Linked DNA regions of Homo sapiens. The protein of the gene in region 5 purifies or fractionates together with the protein of the main gene of each other region. This does not show direct contact. Each region holds a gene or a part of one and is shown on either strand. Other genes may lie near its edges. The genes, in order: CRYBB1, KLHL13, VLDLR, EHD3 and KIRREL1.

Evidence for each region.
Region 1: the proteins of KIRREL1 (region 5) and CRYBB1 purify together in Homo sapiens (co-immunoprecipitation; one large-scale study listed by IntAct). This does not show direct contact.
Region 2: the proteins of KIRREL1 (region 5) and KLHL13 purify together in Homo sapiens (co-immunoprecipitation; one large-scale study listed by IntAct). This does not show direct contact.
Region 3: the proteins of KIRREL1 (region 5) and VLDLR fractionate together in Homo sapiens (co-fractionation; one large-scale study listed by BioGRID). This does not show direct contact.
Region 4: the proteins of KIRREL1 (region 5) and EHD3 purify together in Homo sapiens (co-immunoprecipitation; one large-scale study listed by IntAct). This does not show direct contact.

Annotation. Positions count from the first base shown.
Region 1 is NC_000022.11:26,604,524-26,608,046, reverse strand, and holds part of CRYBB1 (beta-crystallin B1), read left to right. Parts: exon of another isoform or gene 1-25; coding exon 26-158; exon of another isoform or gene 159-225; intron 226-3,523. UniProt on the Homo sapiens protein: Crystallins are the dominant structural components of the vertebrate eye lens.
Region 2 is NC_000023.11:117,917,792-117,921,314, reverse strand, and holds part of KLHL13 (kelch-like protein 13), read left to right. Parts: intron 1-944; coding exon 945-1,077; intron 1,078-1,597; coding exon 1,598-1,794; intron 1,795-3,523. UniProt on the Homo sapiens protein: Substrate-specific adapter of a BCR (BTB-CUL3-RBX1) E3 ubiquitin-protein ligase complex required for mitotic progression and cytokinesis.
Region 3 is NC_000009.12:2,645,766-2,649,288, reverse strand, and holds part of VLDLR (very low-density lipoprotein receptor isoform a precursor), read right to left. Parts: intron 2,956-3,523; coding exon 2,737-2,955; intron 1,816-2,736; coding exon 1,697-1,815; intron 1,082-1,696; coding exon 942-1,081; intron 621-941; coding exon 479-620; intron 106-478; exon of another isoform or gene 1-105. UniProt on the Homo sapiens protein: Multifunctional cell surface receptor that binds VLDL and transports it into cells by endocytosis and therefore plays an important role in energy metabolism.
Region 4 is NC_000002.12:31,265,139-31,267,561, forward strand, and holds part of EHD3 (EH domain-containing protein 3), read left to right. Parts: exon of another isoform or gene 1-802; intron 803-1,038; coding exon 1,039-1,566; 3' UTR 1,567-2,423. UniProt on the Homo sapiens protein: ATP- and membrane-binding protein that controls membrane reorganization/tubulation upon ATP hydrolysis. In vitro causes tubulation of endocytic membranes. Binding to phosphatidic acid induces its membrane tubulation activity.
Region 5 is NC_000001.11:158,094,638-158,097,719, forward strand, and holds part of KIRREL1 (kin of IRRE-like protein 1 isoform 1 precursor), read left to right. Parts: intron 1-6; coding exon 7-483; 3' UTR 484-3,082. UniProt on the Homo sapiens protein: Required for proper function of the glomerular filtration barrier. It is involved in the maintenance of a stable podocyte architecture with interdigitating foot processes connected by specialized cell-cell junctions, known as the slit diaphragm.

The DNA.
Region 1 (3,523 bases), on a different chromosome or scaffold from region 5:
GCCTCATGGTCCTTCTTGTATCCAGCTGGGTCGCCTTTGAGCAGTCCAACTTCCGCGGGGAGATGTTCATCCTGGAGAAGGGCGAGTACCCTCGCTGGAACACATGGTCGAGCAGCTACCGCAGTGATCGGCTCATGTCCTTCCGGCCCATCAAAATGGTGAGTGGCTCTCCGGCTGGGGCTGGAGAATCAGCCAGGCGGGGCAGGGCAGGTGTAAGTCTGAGATCTGACAAGGGCAAGAAGGAGATGATGGTGGGTAGGGAGGCGTGGCAGCCTCCGAGTTGTCAAAGGACCGTGGATTCTTGAGCTCATCAATTCATCAGTGTCCTTAACACACTCACTACATACCCAGCTAGGAACCCTGGGCAAATGATAAGCACAAAAGCTTCCAAGTTAGAGCTAAAAACTTCAGCATCTTCCTTGATTCTCTTGATATCCCTGGCTGCACATTTAGACCTTACTGGGAGCTTTTTTTTTTTTTTTTTTTCCCAAAGATGGGGTTTTGCTGTGTCCCCCAGCCTGGTGTACAGTAGTGTGATCATAGCTCACTGCAGCCTTGAACTCCTGGCCTCAAGTGATCCTCCCGCCTGGGCCTCCTAAAGTGCTAGGATTACAGCCGTGAGCCACCATGCCAGGCCTGGGAAAACTTTTCAAATTTCAGTGCCCATTCGAAACACCAAACATGCTGGTTGCAGATCATGCAATGGCTAAGAAGAGGGATATTGTAGCCGGGCATGGTGGCCCATGCCTGTAATCCCAGCACTTTGGGAGGCTGAGGTGGGTGGTTACCCAAGGTCAGGAGTTCAAGACCAGCCTGATCAACATGACGAAACCCCGTCTTTACTAAAAATACAAAAATTAGCCGGGCGTGGTGGCGCATGCCTGTAATCCCAGCTACTAGCAAGGCTGAGGCAGGAGAATTACTTGAACCCGGGAGCCAGAGGTTGCAGTGAGCCGAGATCATGCCATTGCACTCCAGCCGGGGTGACGGTGCCAGACTCCATCTCAAAAAAAAAAAAAAAAAAAAAGGAGAGGGATACTGTAGAAACGCAGCTTGAACCTCTTAATAATAAGACAATATACTGAATTAGTTTCTTATAATATTTAACTAAGTCAACTTCCAGAAGATTCAAGGTCAAAATGGTGGCGATATCTCCAAGTGATTCACAGTTTTTTCCAGAATTAAGTTGATGATGAGTCATGAACCAGCTACATCTTACTCACCAATGTTAGTTGCTGATGGTAACCGACTTTTGTCTTCCATGATGGGAACATTTATAAGAATTTTCATGAATGTGCATTTGAGGCTATCAAGTGCCAACCACCAGCTGTTTTGACATCACCAAATTTATCTTAATGGATTATTCAAACAGATCATTCCCAACACTTTTCGCAGAATGTAAGACTGAATTATTTGCCTTCATGATGCACTCTCTGTAAGAATTCACAGATGTCTCTCTCAATCATTGAATGGTTCTTATATGCCAACCTATGTTAAGGGGTTTGTTTGGAAGAGTGATCAACCAGGGCATTTCCAGTAGCTTCTAGAAGCTTGCTATTCAACATAATAGGCAGTAGCCATATGTGGCCATTGGACACTTGAATTTTGGCTAAATGGAGATGTGTCATAAGTGTAAAATACATATTAGGTTTTGAATACATAGTAAAAAAAATTTTAAAGAATGTCAACAATGCATTGATATCATTATATTGGTTACATATTGAAATTATAATATTTTAGGTATATTTGTTTAAATAAAATATGTTATTAGAAATGTTTAGAAATCTCAAAGCCTAGACCCCACCCCAGACCAATTAATTCTGAATCTCTAGGGCTGGAACTCCGGCACTGCTATCTTTTCTATGCCCTCTAAGTAGTCCGTCTGTGCAGCCAGGGCTGAGATCCAACCATCTAATTCAGGGGTGCCCAATATTTTGGCTTCCCTGGCCCACGCTGGAAGAATTGTCTTGGGCTACACATAAAATACACTATCACTAACGATAGCGGATGAGCTTTAAAACAATTGCAAAAAAAATCTCATAATGTTTTAAGAAAGTTCACAAATTTGTGTTGGGCCACATTCAAAGCCATCCTGAGCCACATGTGGCCTGCAGGCCGCAGGTTAAATAAGCTTGGTCTAACCCTTCCTCTCTCTGCCCTGCCACAGTCCTGGTCCAGGCCACCATCATCTCTGACCTGGTCATCTTCAGCTCTCTCCCTGCTGGGTTCCCTGACTCCTTTCCAGCCCCCTGTCGTGGGAAGTTAGAGGGATCTTTTCAAAATAAAAAAAAAAAATAAACCTGACCATCTTCTACTTGAACCCAGACATTTTGGTTGGCCTGTTTCTATTTTCCTTTTTTTTTTTTTTTTTTTTTGAGACACATCTAACTCTGTTGCCCAGGCTGGAGTGTAGTGGCACGTTCTGGCTCACTGCAACCTTCACCTCCCTGGGGCAAGCAATTCTCCTGCCTCAGCCTCCCAAGTAGCTGGGATTATAGGTGTGCACCGCCACGCCCAGATAATTTTTGTATTTTTTATAGAGACAGGGTTTCATCATGTTGGCCAGGATGGTCTCAAACTCCTGATCTCAAGTGATCTACCCGCCTGGGCCTCCCAAAGTGCTGGGATTACAGGCATGAGCCAGTGCGCCCAACCAGTTGGCCTGTTTCTGCCAGGCTCTGGTTCTAGGCTCTGAGTGCAAAACTGTGCATCAAACAGACTAGGTCCCTGTCTTCATGGGACTTAAGCTACCCAGGGAGGCAGCTATCAAAAAGCTAATCATAAAAATCCATCTACAATTGCAAACTGTGGTAGGTGTTACACAAAGGCCATGCAATCTAACTAGGAAAGCAGAAGCAGGAACTGGGGGCTCAGATATTGTTAGAGGTGGGAGTGGTCAGGGGGTCATCAGGGAAGCCAGCTCCCAAAGTTTGGAAACCAACTCAGCCACGTGAAGAGCAGATGGTAAAGCCTTCCAGGGAACAGTGTGTGCAAAACTCCTAGAGCAACGATGGACTGGTGGGACCAAGAAAATTAAAGGTGGCCAACAAAGCTGCAGCAGAGGGAGTGGAGGAAAGAGGGAGGCAAGATGGGAGGGGAGGTGGTGGTGGAGACCAGGGTCTTGTAGGGTCTCATAGGTGGTGGCAAGTTCAGTCTTGACCCCTCTAGCAGTGGGGAGCCATTGACTAACAACCTTCCCAAGGCCCTCAAGACCGTAACAGTAATAAGTAATCATTGTTGTACTTTTACCACTGGCTGGTAATTGCACTAAGGGCATTTGTCTTGCCATGCCCCAAAGGGTCCCCTGTGCTTACATCCCTGCCTGGCACCTTGCACTTGCCTTCCTGCACCCTGGCCACACAGATATTGTCTTGCACATTCCCACCTCCCAGCTTTTGCCTATGCCTTCTCTGCCTCAGTGCCTTCCCTCAACCCTCCTTCCCTTCTCAGCTTTGTGCACTCCTCCTTAACCTCCAAGGTCCCTCTCTAGTGTCACTTCTTCCATGAAGCCTTCCCTGATCTG
Region 2 (3,523 bases), on a different chromosome or scaffold from region 5:
CATCCCCTAAAGCATACATCTCTGTACCCACAAAAATTAAAAATAAAAGATAAAAATTGAAAAACATGATGTTTTGAAATATGTGTATGTTGTAGATTCAACCTGTTATAATCTTAAAAGTGATTGTCATTCTTCCAACTTATATCAATAGAACAACTGTCTATTTGTCGTTAGTTGAGACCATCAGGGTGTAGTGAAAAAGCTAATCAACAAGGATTCTTCTCACCAGAGCTCTGTCACTCCTCTGAATTGTGGCTGCTAGCCTGTTAATTCTCCACTAAACCTTTAGGCATTTGGAGACAATTAAGTCTCATGTTGGGGTTTCCTGGGCTTTTTTTTGTTTTTTTTCAAACAAAGATAATTAAGTCTCAAACTTGAAACTTGAAAGATATTTGGCCAGGCAGCAGCAATGTACTGAGTATAGGCTTCTCAAAGAGATGAAGTAATACAATTAGTAGAAAGAACTATCGTGTACTTAATACAGTTGCTCTCTACTTTTCTTTCTCAACCTCCCCCAAAACAAAACAAAACCAAGATGCTTCAGTCAAGCACTATAAAAGGACTATTAAATTATCGCGAAAAGGAATGTTAAGACAGTCTAATACTCTCATTCTGCAGATGGGAAAGTAGAAGTGCACATTGTAATTATTTTTCAAAATAAGGTAAAAGCTGATAATTGTGTAAATAAGCAAAAGTATATACTTTTTCCTTAATCGTTTTTAACCTAAATTAGTCTTAATTTTGTGTTATTCCTACAGTGAAAGAAAACATGCATTGTCACATATCAGGAAAGTTGTGCAGTTATTTTTTCTTCTCCCGAATATTCTGTTGGCTTTATGTTCCACATATGTTGCACCACATTAATATTCAAACAATTTTAGCACACGAAGATTTGTAACCTCATTTTACCTTGATTAGTGACTCAACTCATGTTCTTGTTGTAGGGCTTTGACCAGCTTCGACTTGAAGGATTGCTTTGTGATGTGACCCTGATGCCAGGTGACACAGATGATGCTTTCCCTGTGCATAGAGTCATGATGGCATCTGCTAGTGATTACTTCAAGGCTATGTTCACAGGTAGTTTGCCTTTTAAAACTCTGAAACCACATTAAAACAATATGAAAAATCCGTGTTTAAATCTTTTTTATTTCTAACATGAAATTTGGTTCTTTTGGAAACAGCTTCAAAAGAAGTACACAACAGTATGTATGGTTTTCGGTGGTGCTGTTTTAACATGGAAAATTGATGCACTTTTTTCATACTGTCCATCTTTATCTCACAGCTTTTCTTTTTCAAGCTTATATCTAGTGGGCCATCAGAGACTCTGTGTCCTCCTAGTACAATCTCTACTCTATGTCAAAAAATAGGAAGTGAGAACATTTTGGAAGCACTTGCATCATATATGACCTCCATTAGTATAGAGATTATCTTTTTTAAGTACTTTCTTTTAACAGTAAAATGTGCAGCAGACTGACTCTAATATGACTGCTTATATAAGATAAGACTTTCCTTTGATTTTATTGCATCTAATTAGCAGCAGAAGTGAGTTTGACCATAATTATCCACCTTCATTTAATTGAATGTCTTTTTATTTAAGGTGGAATGAAAGAACAAGATTTAATGTGCATTAAACTTCATGGTGTGAGCAAAGTCGGTCTAAGGAAAATTATTGATTTCATTTATACTGCAAAGCTTTCTCTTAATATGGACAACCTTCAAGACACGCTGGAAGCTGCCAGTTTCCTACAGATTCTGCCAGTTTTGGACTTCTGTAAAGTGTTTCTCATATCTGGGGTAAGATATTTTGAAATCTGATTTTTCCTGTGGTAGACTCTGATGTAGCCTGTTTAGGACTCATGAAATCTGCTGTGCAGGAATGTGAAACTTGCCATTAGACAGATGTGTCTTGTTGTATGTGGTCTGTAAGCAAGGTGAGATTGAAACAGGTGCATTTTTATGAAATAGAATCATTTAATAAAAGCCTCTGTGTTGGCCGGGCATCGTGGCTCACGCCTGTAATCCCAGCACTTTGGGAGGCCGAGGCGGGCAGATCGTCTAAGGTTGGGAGTTCAAGACCAGCCTGACCAACATGGAGAAAGCCCGTCTCTACTAAAAATACAAAAATTAGCTGTGCATGGTGGTGCATGCCTGTAATTCCAGCTACTTGGGAGGCTGAGGCAGGAGAATCGCTTGAACCTGGGAGGTGGAGGTTGTGGCGAACTGAGATCACGCCATTGCACTCCAGCCTGGGCAACAAGAGTGAGACTCCATCTCAGGAAGAAAAAAAAAGCCTCTGTGTAATCAAATGACATGAGATACTAATAATGTTTGATGAAGATATATACTTTAACTGTTTGATAATGGTATGTACCATAATCTGGTTTTATTCACCTTAATGACTATACAAGCAGGCTTCTTAAATGTAATTGAATGGAAAAGTAATCTGAGCTTCTAGAACTCTTTAAAATTTCTTCTTTTAATAAGGGAGCTAGATCTTAAGAAGAACTAATACCTATGGGCAAACCTGTAAGAATGTAAGTCTTGATTCCATAGAAACATATCACCTACTGAATAGTGTTTAGCCATTTTTTAATAGATAAGATAGGACACATACAACTACCAATCGATGGAGTACTTAATGATAGTCACCCAGTTCCTGAAGAGAGTGTTTTATTTTAGTTGAGACCTTTAAATTTTACTTCTGGGGAGATAAATGGCTACATTGGACAGAAATATTGCCAAGACTTCCAGAGGTCTTGGAGCTTGTTTTTCTGATTAAGAATTCTGGCAATATTAATTTTTGGTATATTTTCTAACTCATTATGTTGATGGATATGTTTTCTATAATTTTTTAACTCATATGAATCTTAATATAGGTAAATAATTGCTGTTAGATCTTTACAACTTACATTTTTTGAACATGGAACCTTCTTTAAAACACTAAGTTTCAAGAGAGCCATGTCCTTAATTATTTTATTATTAAGGTACTTAACTATCTTAAAAGTCAGCCAATAACTAATTTAACTGGCCTATTGAAAGTGTGTTTTTTGTATGTTTGATTTTAGAAAACTCAGACTGCTGTCTCACAATTACTTATAAAATTTGAACTAATTGCTACTTTTAAGGGTTTTTATGGCAGCATGGTGCTATATTGTTGACTTGTATTGTCTTCTTTATTGCGAAAGTAGCCCAAGTGAAGTTGGTTAATTCCCATGCTATTGCTTGCCTCCATTACTGAATTTAGGTGCTAAATTTTATTTAAATTTGATCATGCAAGGCCCATTCCCTCAAGAGCTATTAGGATCTCACCTCTGGTTGTGTCACTGGCATGATATAACAACTTCATTTCAAGGAAAAATGAATCATATTGAATGTGATTTTCAAAATGCCTCAAGTCCAGAATTTAATTTAGTAGTAACACTTAAAGCTTGTACTTATAGACTCTTAACATTGCTTTACACTGATCTTAGCAACACATGGTCATCCTGAGCCAAATTAAGGAAAGTGCCATGATTTCTTTGGA
Region 3 (3,523 bases), on a different chromosome or scaffold from region 5:
ACCCTTCCCTCACAGCCCTCAAGAGGCACCAACCCTCCTGGCACCTTGATTTCAAACTTCTGGCCTCCAGAGTTTTGAGACAATAAATTTCTGTTGTTTAAGATAGTCTGTGGTACTTCATTGCAAAAATCCTAGCAAACTAACAGTAGAGAAAGCTTGTAGCACAAAAGCTACTTTGGAGGCTACTGCAATAGTCTTGGCAAGAGGGGCTGAAGGCCAAGGGGACATGAATGAAACAGAAATAAAAGCTCTGACACTGAGGCTTGGGAGGAAAGCCAGGAGCTGAAGTTGAGAAGCCATTTCTCTGAGGCAGCAGAAATAAAAAAATAACATGTGAAATGTTTAAGGTAGGGTACAGGAGGGCAAAAGTTCCCTTTTAAAGAAAACTGAGTTGCCAAGAGCTACTGACATCCAGCAGGTTCTGTGTCATGCTGCTTCCCTTAAAGTAGTTATTAAGGACTGTGCTTCTCCACGGTACCTGATGGCTGTACAAGTTCATGATAGACAATGATGTCTTGGGCATCATTCAGGTTGTTGACTAGAGTGGCTAGCTCTGATCCAGTGAATTTATTGGCACCATAGACTGCTTCATTTTCCCCATCTATCCAGTAGACACGATCCTAAAACAGAAGCCCACAATTAGCATGTACATCCAGGATTAACACAAGTCCATTTCTAAGGTCATCATCATTTACTTCTCATTTAATGGACTAAGTTTACTGAATGCTGAACTGGGACACTGGATATAAAACTGTAAAAGAATCAAGTTTAGGTGTGGAGTGCTTCTGGGACTTAGTGTCTGATTTGTACCAGGTTTTAAGTGAAAGCAGTTTCTCAAGCCATGTTCAGCTGCTCTTCCCTCCTCCCGCTATGTCTGTTATTTCTTCTCAAAGTGATATAGTAGCTCAAAGGTACACACTTTGATGTGAGACACATCTTACCTCAAATATTGTTAGTGCAAGAGGATGAGCTAGGAACTCCAGAGACTTTAGTACTATCCTACGATCTTGGCCATTCAAGTCCACGCTGGATAACATGTGCAACTTAGAATCAAGCCAATAGAGGCGACTTTTTATAAGGTCTAGGTAGGAAAAGAATTGTCATTACATGACAAGCCACTACTACTCTGGCTTCCATTAAAAATATCTAATGAATTAATAATCTACTTTCACGGTTCTTTCCCCAGCAGGGTTTCTTAACGGGGTCACCATAAACCTTGCGAAGCAGCATGCAGAGCCTGTATCCACGTTCATTTTTGGGGACTAACAGGGTACCTGAGATTCTCAAAGCAAATGACTTAAGAAATATTACTCACATTACAGAAAATATTAAAAGAGGCTACCATTTTGTTGTTCTCCTCCAAAAAGCCAGAAGAAAACTGTTAAAAGCCTGCAATTCAGGAAATGCTAAGGCACTCATGCCCAGAATATTTAGTATGAGTGCACCCAAGACCCAACGTTCACTGAATTTGTGTCACATATTAGGCCCAGCTGGACAACAGGCCAGTAATTATGGAATGTGTAATTTGTTAATCCACCATTTTACTTGTGTTGTTCAGTTACTCCCATTGAAAATTCCTGCTAGAATTTAGGCGGAAGCAGTAGAGTCATCTGCTAGTCCAGAATTCACCATGGAGATAAATGGAAACACTATGAAGATAGTTGAGTGGGTGGTCGAGAAGGAAGAACATACATACCAAGTGTAATTCCGTTAGGCCACTGGATATCCGCTGTCACCAGTGGACGTCTATCGAATCCATTCATTCCTGCTTTTTCTATTTTAGCTGGTTCACCCCAGTCTGACCAGTAAACAAAGCTGTGAAAAATTAAATGAGAAATAAGCCTCAGTGGTTTAGAAGGAATAAAGTTGTAGTAGCTGGAAACAAAAATTTAAAATTTGAGCAGAAAACTCAAGGCATTCTCTAGTGACAAATAGTAACACTTAAGGGTCTAAATTATGTTCTAGGTAAATAAAATTGAATATTAAGAATCTACAAGCTCATTATTAACTATAATAATCTATGTTTGTCTGACATTTAAATTTCGGCCCAAAGTCACAAGGTTATGTTTCCTTTTTAAAAGGTCAGTTCTTACAGAGGAGTGCAAGACGAACATCCTTCAAATTTCATAGCAGGGGTTGGCTGGCTGACTGAGTTCTAATGAGGCTGCACGGGGGCCAGTTGTGATGACAACTACAGCCTTAGTCAACTTCCTGAGCTGCTCTTCTATGTTACTTAGTGGCAATTTACAGAACCCCCTTAGTGAAATGTTTCTAGAAAGGTCTGTTTATTTCTGCTGGACTTTCAGACAACTTGCACACTTAGATGCAATGTGGTTACCCAAATCCTCACAATTCAGGCTGTCGTTTAGGTTTGATCATCCAGAGCTAGCCCAGCAAAGCTTTCAGTCAAAAATTAAAAAATCACTTGCGTAGAAACTGGGTGGACAAAAGGGTTCAGATACAGCTTTTGGTACACACATCAAATCAGGAATGTTAATTCATTAATGTCAGCCAGCAATCAGTCATACGAGAGTCAGACAGGAGGACCTGTCATATAGATAAGGACATCCCAGGGTCACTCACCTGGGGCAAAACTGATATCTTAAATTAGAATTCTAATTCTTTGTTGCAGAAGGCTCATAAACCTTGAGATTTGAGTACTAATTCAGGTATGAGAAAGCTCCTGACCTACACAGATACCATTCCAAAGTCTGTGATGGAAAACAGACTACAAACCCAGACAGTGGGTCCACAGCTATGGAGGCAGGCTCTCGCAAGTCAGAGTTAAACAGGAACTTCCTCTTGGTTCCATCTAGGGTAGCTACTGAAATAGTCTTAGAAGCCGCATCAGTCCAGTAGATGGTCTTGTACACCCAATCAACAGCAATGGCTGCAGGATTATAGACATTGTCGATCATTTTAACATGTCTACCAACCTTGTCATCAATTGAGGCACTGAAACAGAATAGGTCACAAGAAATTTAAGAGTTTGACACAATTAGAGCTTGGAGAATGGACTTTTTGCTTACAAAATGGTCAATGACTTTGTTCAGAAAGAAATCCAGTTAACACCACAGCTCACCACTCAAATTATTTAACCATGCTGCTTACTGATCCTAAATTAATAATGCTGTAGATTATCTAGTTGCTGGTATGTATTCTATATACAAGAACAACAAATTTCTAAGTGAAGCTATTTGTTTCAGTATCCATCATCTGAGTTTCTATAGTTCCCATTAAGAAAAGGCTGTACTACCATTTCTATTTGTAGCAACAATGAACAGTTCTCAATTAACTGTAGAGAAAAGGGAGAAAATATAAAAAATATGAAAGATGTCATCTTTTACTTCATAGACAATTGTTAGTTTCTAATTAGGAAGTGATAACAGTTTAATAAAGAATTAGCATTAGATTTAATGTCCCCAGGTAATTCGATGCTAGATGGGGCTAGACACAAAAGAAACTCCTCCAAACTATCCCACAGATCACTTCCCAAGTGACAATGACTTATGTCAAGACACCA
Region 4 (2,423 bases), on a different chromosome or scaffold from region 5:
AATTCCTCCTGAAGGGCCTGCCTGAGGTTGTTTTACTGTTAACATTTTTTTTAAATAAGTAGAAAGAATACACCCTAAAATAACAATAAAAAGTACAGTATAGTAAATATTTACATAAACCAGTAACATAGCCGTTATCATTATCCGGTATTATGTACTCTATGGAAATGTGTGTGCTAGATTTTTATACCACTGGCAGCACAGTAGGTTTGTTTACACCAGCATCACCACAAACACATAATGCGTTGTGTTGTGTACAGTAGCTACAATGTCACCAGGCAACAGGAATTTCCCAGCTCCCTTATTGTCTTCTGGGACCCTCGTCATACGTGTGGTCCCTCATTGACTGAAACATTGTAATGCAGCACATGACTGTATTTTGAAAACTCTCCTCAGGTGACTCCGATGAGCATCCTGATTAAGAACCATAATTTGGGGATGACCTTTGGCTTCTGTTATGATTTGGTTTTAGTACCCTGTGCCCTGTTTGGTTTTTGTTTTTGTTTTCACTAAGTGGGGATAGAATGTGATTTTCCTACCTCAGAAGGGCGCTGGGGGAGTGAACGAGGTAATGTAGTGAAGGCACTTGCGGTGATTTTCAAGTACAGTATAACCCTTATTAAAGTAGAGGCCCACATGACCCAGTCTCAGAGGTACAGCATTCAAGAGACATGATTCAATAGCCAAAACTGACTTAAAGAGAAATGTAATGATTTCCTCTCTGGAATGACATTGAAGGGGATTGAAATAAATAGATCATGCCAATACTTGTTAAATTTCCCTTTCTTCCCCAGCCCCTACAACCCTTCTACCCCCTACTGAAAAATCCCATCATCAGCCCAGTGGGCCTTTATTCCCCTCCTCTCTCATACCTTCGATTACCACGTGATGTCCATCAGCTGAGCCTCTAGGTCACAGGTCTTTCATTGTAGAAAGGGATCAGCTGTGAACATTCTGGTGCTCATAGGAGGCACGTGATAAATGGAGGGCTCTCCTTTCATCGTATCCTATCTTCATCCTCTCTCCTCCTCTTCCCAGGACCAGCTGCAGGCCCAGGACTTTAGCAAGTTCCAGCCGCTGAAGAGCAAGCTGCTGGAGGTAGTGGACGACATGCTGGCCCATGACATTGCCCAGCTCATGGTGCTAGTGCGCCAGGAGGAGTCACAGCGGCCCATCCAGATGGTGAAGGGCGGAGCGTTCGAGGGCACCCTGCACGGCCCCTTTGGGCATGGCTATGGGGAGGGGGCTGGAGAAGGTATCGATGATGCTGAGTGGGTGGTGGCCAGGGACAAGCCCATGTACGACGAGATCTTCTACACCCTGTCACCGGTGGATGGCAAGATCACAGGCGCTAATGCCAAGAAGGAGATGGTGCGCTCCAAGCTGCCCAACAGTGTGCTGGGCAAGATCTGGAAGCTGGCCGACATTGACAAGGATGGCATGCTGGACGACGACGAGTTTGCACTGGCCAACCACCTCATCAAAGTCAAGCTGGAGGGGCACGAGCTGCCCAACGAGCTGCCTGCCCACCTCCTGCCCCCGTCCAAGAGGAAAGTTGCCGAGTGATGGGGTGGGGGGACATTCAGACGGGCAGTGTTAGAGGAGGAGATGGGAGCGGTGACTACACACACACACACACACACACACACACACACAAACATGCACACACACATATGCATATCTTGACATTGCTCTGTAGGTGAGAGAGGACCATGACGCCCATGTTTGCAGCTGATACTTGTTTGGGCACACCTCCAAGTTCTCGGGATTAGAAGGACAAGAGCACTCCCAGGCCCCAGAGTCTAAGCCTAAGTCTCTATCGCTCTTCCCCTCTCCTCGGCCACTCCCCAGATACCAGACCTGAGGCAATTCACTTGCCAGCACAGATGGCCAACCCACCTCCAGATTCCCCAGTGCTTCCACACCCGGGCTCTGAGCAAATGGAAAAGACTTTTCATTTAGTAGACAATTCACTTCTTTTTCTGTGCTTCCCCTATCTGCTTTGGCTTCCTAATAAGAAATCCATTCAAGAGCTAGGAGATCTGAGGGCAGGCGGGCAGCTGCAGGGAGGAGAGGTGAGAAAGGAAGCGTCTTCTAGAGACATTGGCCCAGGAGCTCTGTTCTTTCCTAATCTAAGCCTCTGTCTTCTTCGGCAAACCTTGCTTTGAACTCTGCCAGTATTTCATTTTAAAGAATCCCAGAGCGGGAGAGAGAAGAGAAAAAAATTGATAAGAGTGAGGAAATTGTCCTGTAGTCTATTGAAAACCAGTCAAGGTGGTTTTAGTTCATAGATTTTGTTAGATGTTCTTTCCACCTGGCCTATGATGTTTAGATGTTCATACTTGACTCACATTTACCCAGCCCCTCCTGCGTACCAGGAGCTGTGTTAGGCACTTTATATACATTATTCTATGTGGCCCTCA
Region 5 (3,082 bases):
CCCCAGGACCCCACCAATGGCTACTACAACGTGCGTGCCCATGAAGACCGCCCGTCTTCCAGGGCAGTGCTCTATGCTGACTACCGTGCCCCTGGCCCTGCCCGCTTCGACGGCCGCCCCTCATCCCGTCTCTCCCACTCCAGCGGCTATGCCCAGCTCAACACCTATAGCCGGGGCCCTGCCTCTGACTATGGCCCTGAGCCCACACCCCCTGGCCCTGCTGCCCCAGCTGGCACTGACACAACCAGCCAGCTGTCCTACGAGAACTATGAGAAGTTCAACTCCCATCCCTTCCCTGGGGCAGCTGGGTACCCCACCTACCGACTGGGCTACCCCCAGGCCCCACCCTCTGGCCTGGAGCGGACCCCATATGAGGCGTATGACCCCATTGGCAAGTACGCCACAGCCACTCGATTCTCCTACACCTCCCAGCACTCGGACTACGGCCAGCGATTCCAGCAGCGCATGCAGACTCACGTGTAGGGGCCAGAGCCTGGCTGGGGCATCTCTGCGGGGCAGAGGAGAAGGCTTTCACAGCTGTTCCCTGATATTCAGGGGCATTGCTCATTGCTCCCTTCTCGGACCAGCCTTCTTCCTCCCACCATGGCAGGTGGGGAGCAGGTCTCCCAGAAACACCCCGTCCCGAGGATGGTGCTCTGTGCATGCCCCAGCCTCCTGGGCCTGCCCTTCCCTCTTCTTCGGGAGGATGTGTCTCTTCTGACCTGCACTCTTGCCTGACCCTAGAATGGGGACAGGGAAAGTGAAGGTTAGGGAAAGCAGAGGGGGGCACTTTTTAGCATTCCCTTTCTATCCCACCCCTCTGATCTCCCATAAGTGGAAATGGGGGTACCCAGGGATGGGCAGGCTTTGGCCTAGGGACATGAAGTATGGGAGTGGGTGGCTGTGGCACAGACAGGTGGAAAACGGGATAGCCTGGCCAGTCCCTCTGTTGTCTGCATTCGTGCCCTGGGTGCCTCTCTCCTTCCTCAGGGTACTGCAGAAGGGAGCGAACAGGGTACTGTTCGCTCTTGTCTACAGAACAGCCCTGGCACTGCATTCAAATCCAGTCTTCATTCAGCTGGGATCAAAATGCCAGTCACCTTGGCTACCCACTGTGGACAGCTGTCTGTCAGCATGCAGAGGGATCCAGGAATCCCCCCGGCAGCACGGCCCGCTTTCCTTCTCCTCCATGCTGGGCCAGCCAGATAAGTCAGGGTCCTGGTGGAGAAAGAAAGGCTAGGACCATGTCCTCATTGACCCAGATACTGCTGTGTGCTGCACAGCAGTGAACCAACACTAGAGGGAGCCACACAAGCCTCCTCTCCCCAGTCTGCCCCACTTCCTGGCTTTAACTCTTGAGCTGGTTTGGGGAGTGGTGAGGTAGGGGTGGGGGTGCTGTAGGCTCTTTTTCAAAGAAAACAAAAAACAATGAAAACCTCATTTGGGAAGAAAAGCTGTAGGGATTCCCCCACCCAAATACAAGTCCCAGTGGAAAGGAAAGGTAGTACCTATTCTTCTCCATGGGGTTCCTAACACCCTCCATTACTCTTTCAGTCTCCAAGCACTTTGAATCCATTTTTAAACATTCAGGTTGCCAGACCTGTCACACAGTGGACTCTGATAGGGTTACGGAGGGGGCCTGGCTCTCAGTCTCTACTCTCCTATGTCCCATCAGTTGGTTGGAGGCCACCTTCCAGGGGGTATGGGAGACAGGTTTTGGTTTTTAAGTGTCTTTTTTTTTTTTCTTGGACCAATCAGATTCCTTCTTCCACTTTCAGTGCCTTGAGTGTCAAGCTTTGGATGACCGACCCTATGTGGGCGGTTGTGTGGGGAGTGGGTACTTGTGAGCCTCGGACACACTGTTAAGTGTTACAGTGTTAGGAGAGAGATGGGTGAGGGGACCTGGAGAGGTAAGGGGCCTGGAAATGGCCCTGACAGAGAACTTGTGCTGACCGGGAGAAGGTGGTGCGGAAGGGCACCGCAGGCATTACACAGGCCATTTCTCCTCCTCCATGTGCACGCACATCCAACACACACCTTCCATGTGACTGCTTCTCAGCCACCACTTTCTGACCAAAGAGAACAGGCGCTCCAAGGAGAACCTGTACCCCTGCCCCAGCCTCGCCTTCCTAAAAAGCAGTGTCTGGAGTTGGCTGTTTCCCGCCTCCCCAGCTGCATGTCCAGCCCAGTGGGAGACAGGGCCTCTGGTGCAGTTCCCAAAATGTTCCTCGCCCTTTCTCCGTGGTCACCATTCATAATTCATGTTCGCTTTAATGAGTTACATGCTTATCAGCCACAGGCCATTACCACCCTTATGGATGGGTCTGGGGGGCGACATTCCTGGCCAACCCCTTGTAGGAAGGACCAGATAATACCCAGGAAGCAAGTAGCTCTAATTTTAACTTCACAGGAAGTCTGTGCATCCTCCTTCATTTCAGCAGGGAAAACTCCTGTGGAGTGGGCCCTATCTGGGGCATTTACAGGCTTCCAGCTGTATTCCATCCCTGGAAGCTGATACCTTTCTATAGAGTCCTTTTATGAGAGCTCAGTGGGAAGGTCTGTCAAGAAATTCAGGTTCTTGTACAGACAAATTCATGCAAATTTCTATTATTTTCACAAAAACCAGAAACCATGGGGGAATCCAAAGACTTGAAGTCTAAAGATGGTGGCTTTTAAAACATGCATATTCCAAAAAGAATTCATTTTTGTTTTGGGTTTGGCTAGATTCTCTTATTTATCCCCTTTTAGCTTAAGTATTAGTTTCATTCTACTGAAATGATGGAGAGAGGGCCTAAGGTTACTAGGTAATTGAGCTGATGGTGCAGGGAGAATTGTTGAGAAAGGAAGCCTAGTTTCCAGAAGCCTGACACAGAGCTACTTCACTGTCCTCTACTCCTTAACAAGGTAACTGGAGCCTCTTGGGTGTCAAACAAGCACCCTGGAAGGCACAGGGAAGCATCAGCAACCAAGGTAGTCTCTGCCCTCTGTAACTTACGTGTTGGTGCATCAGAATCTGAATTGGAACCTACCTGATGGGCCCAGTGGAATAGCTTTTCTGGGGAGTGGAAGGCGTCCTTGATCA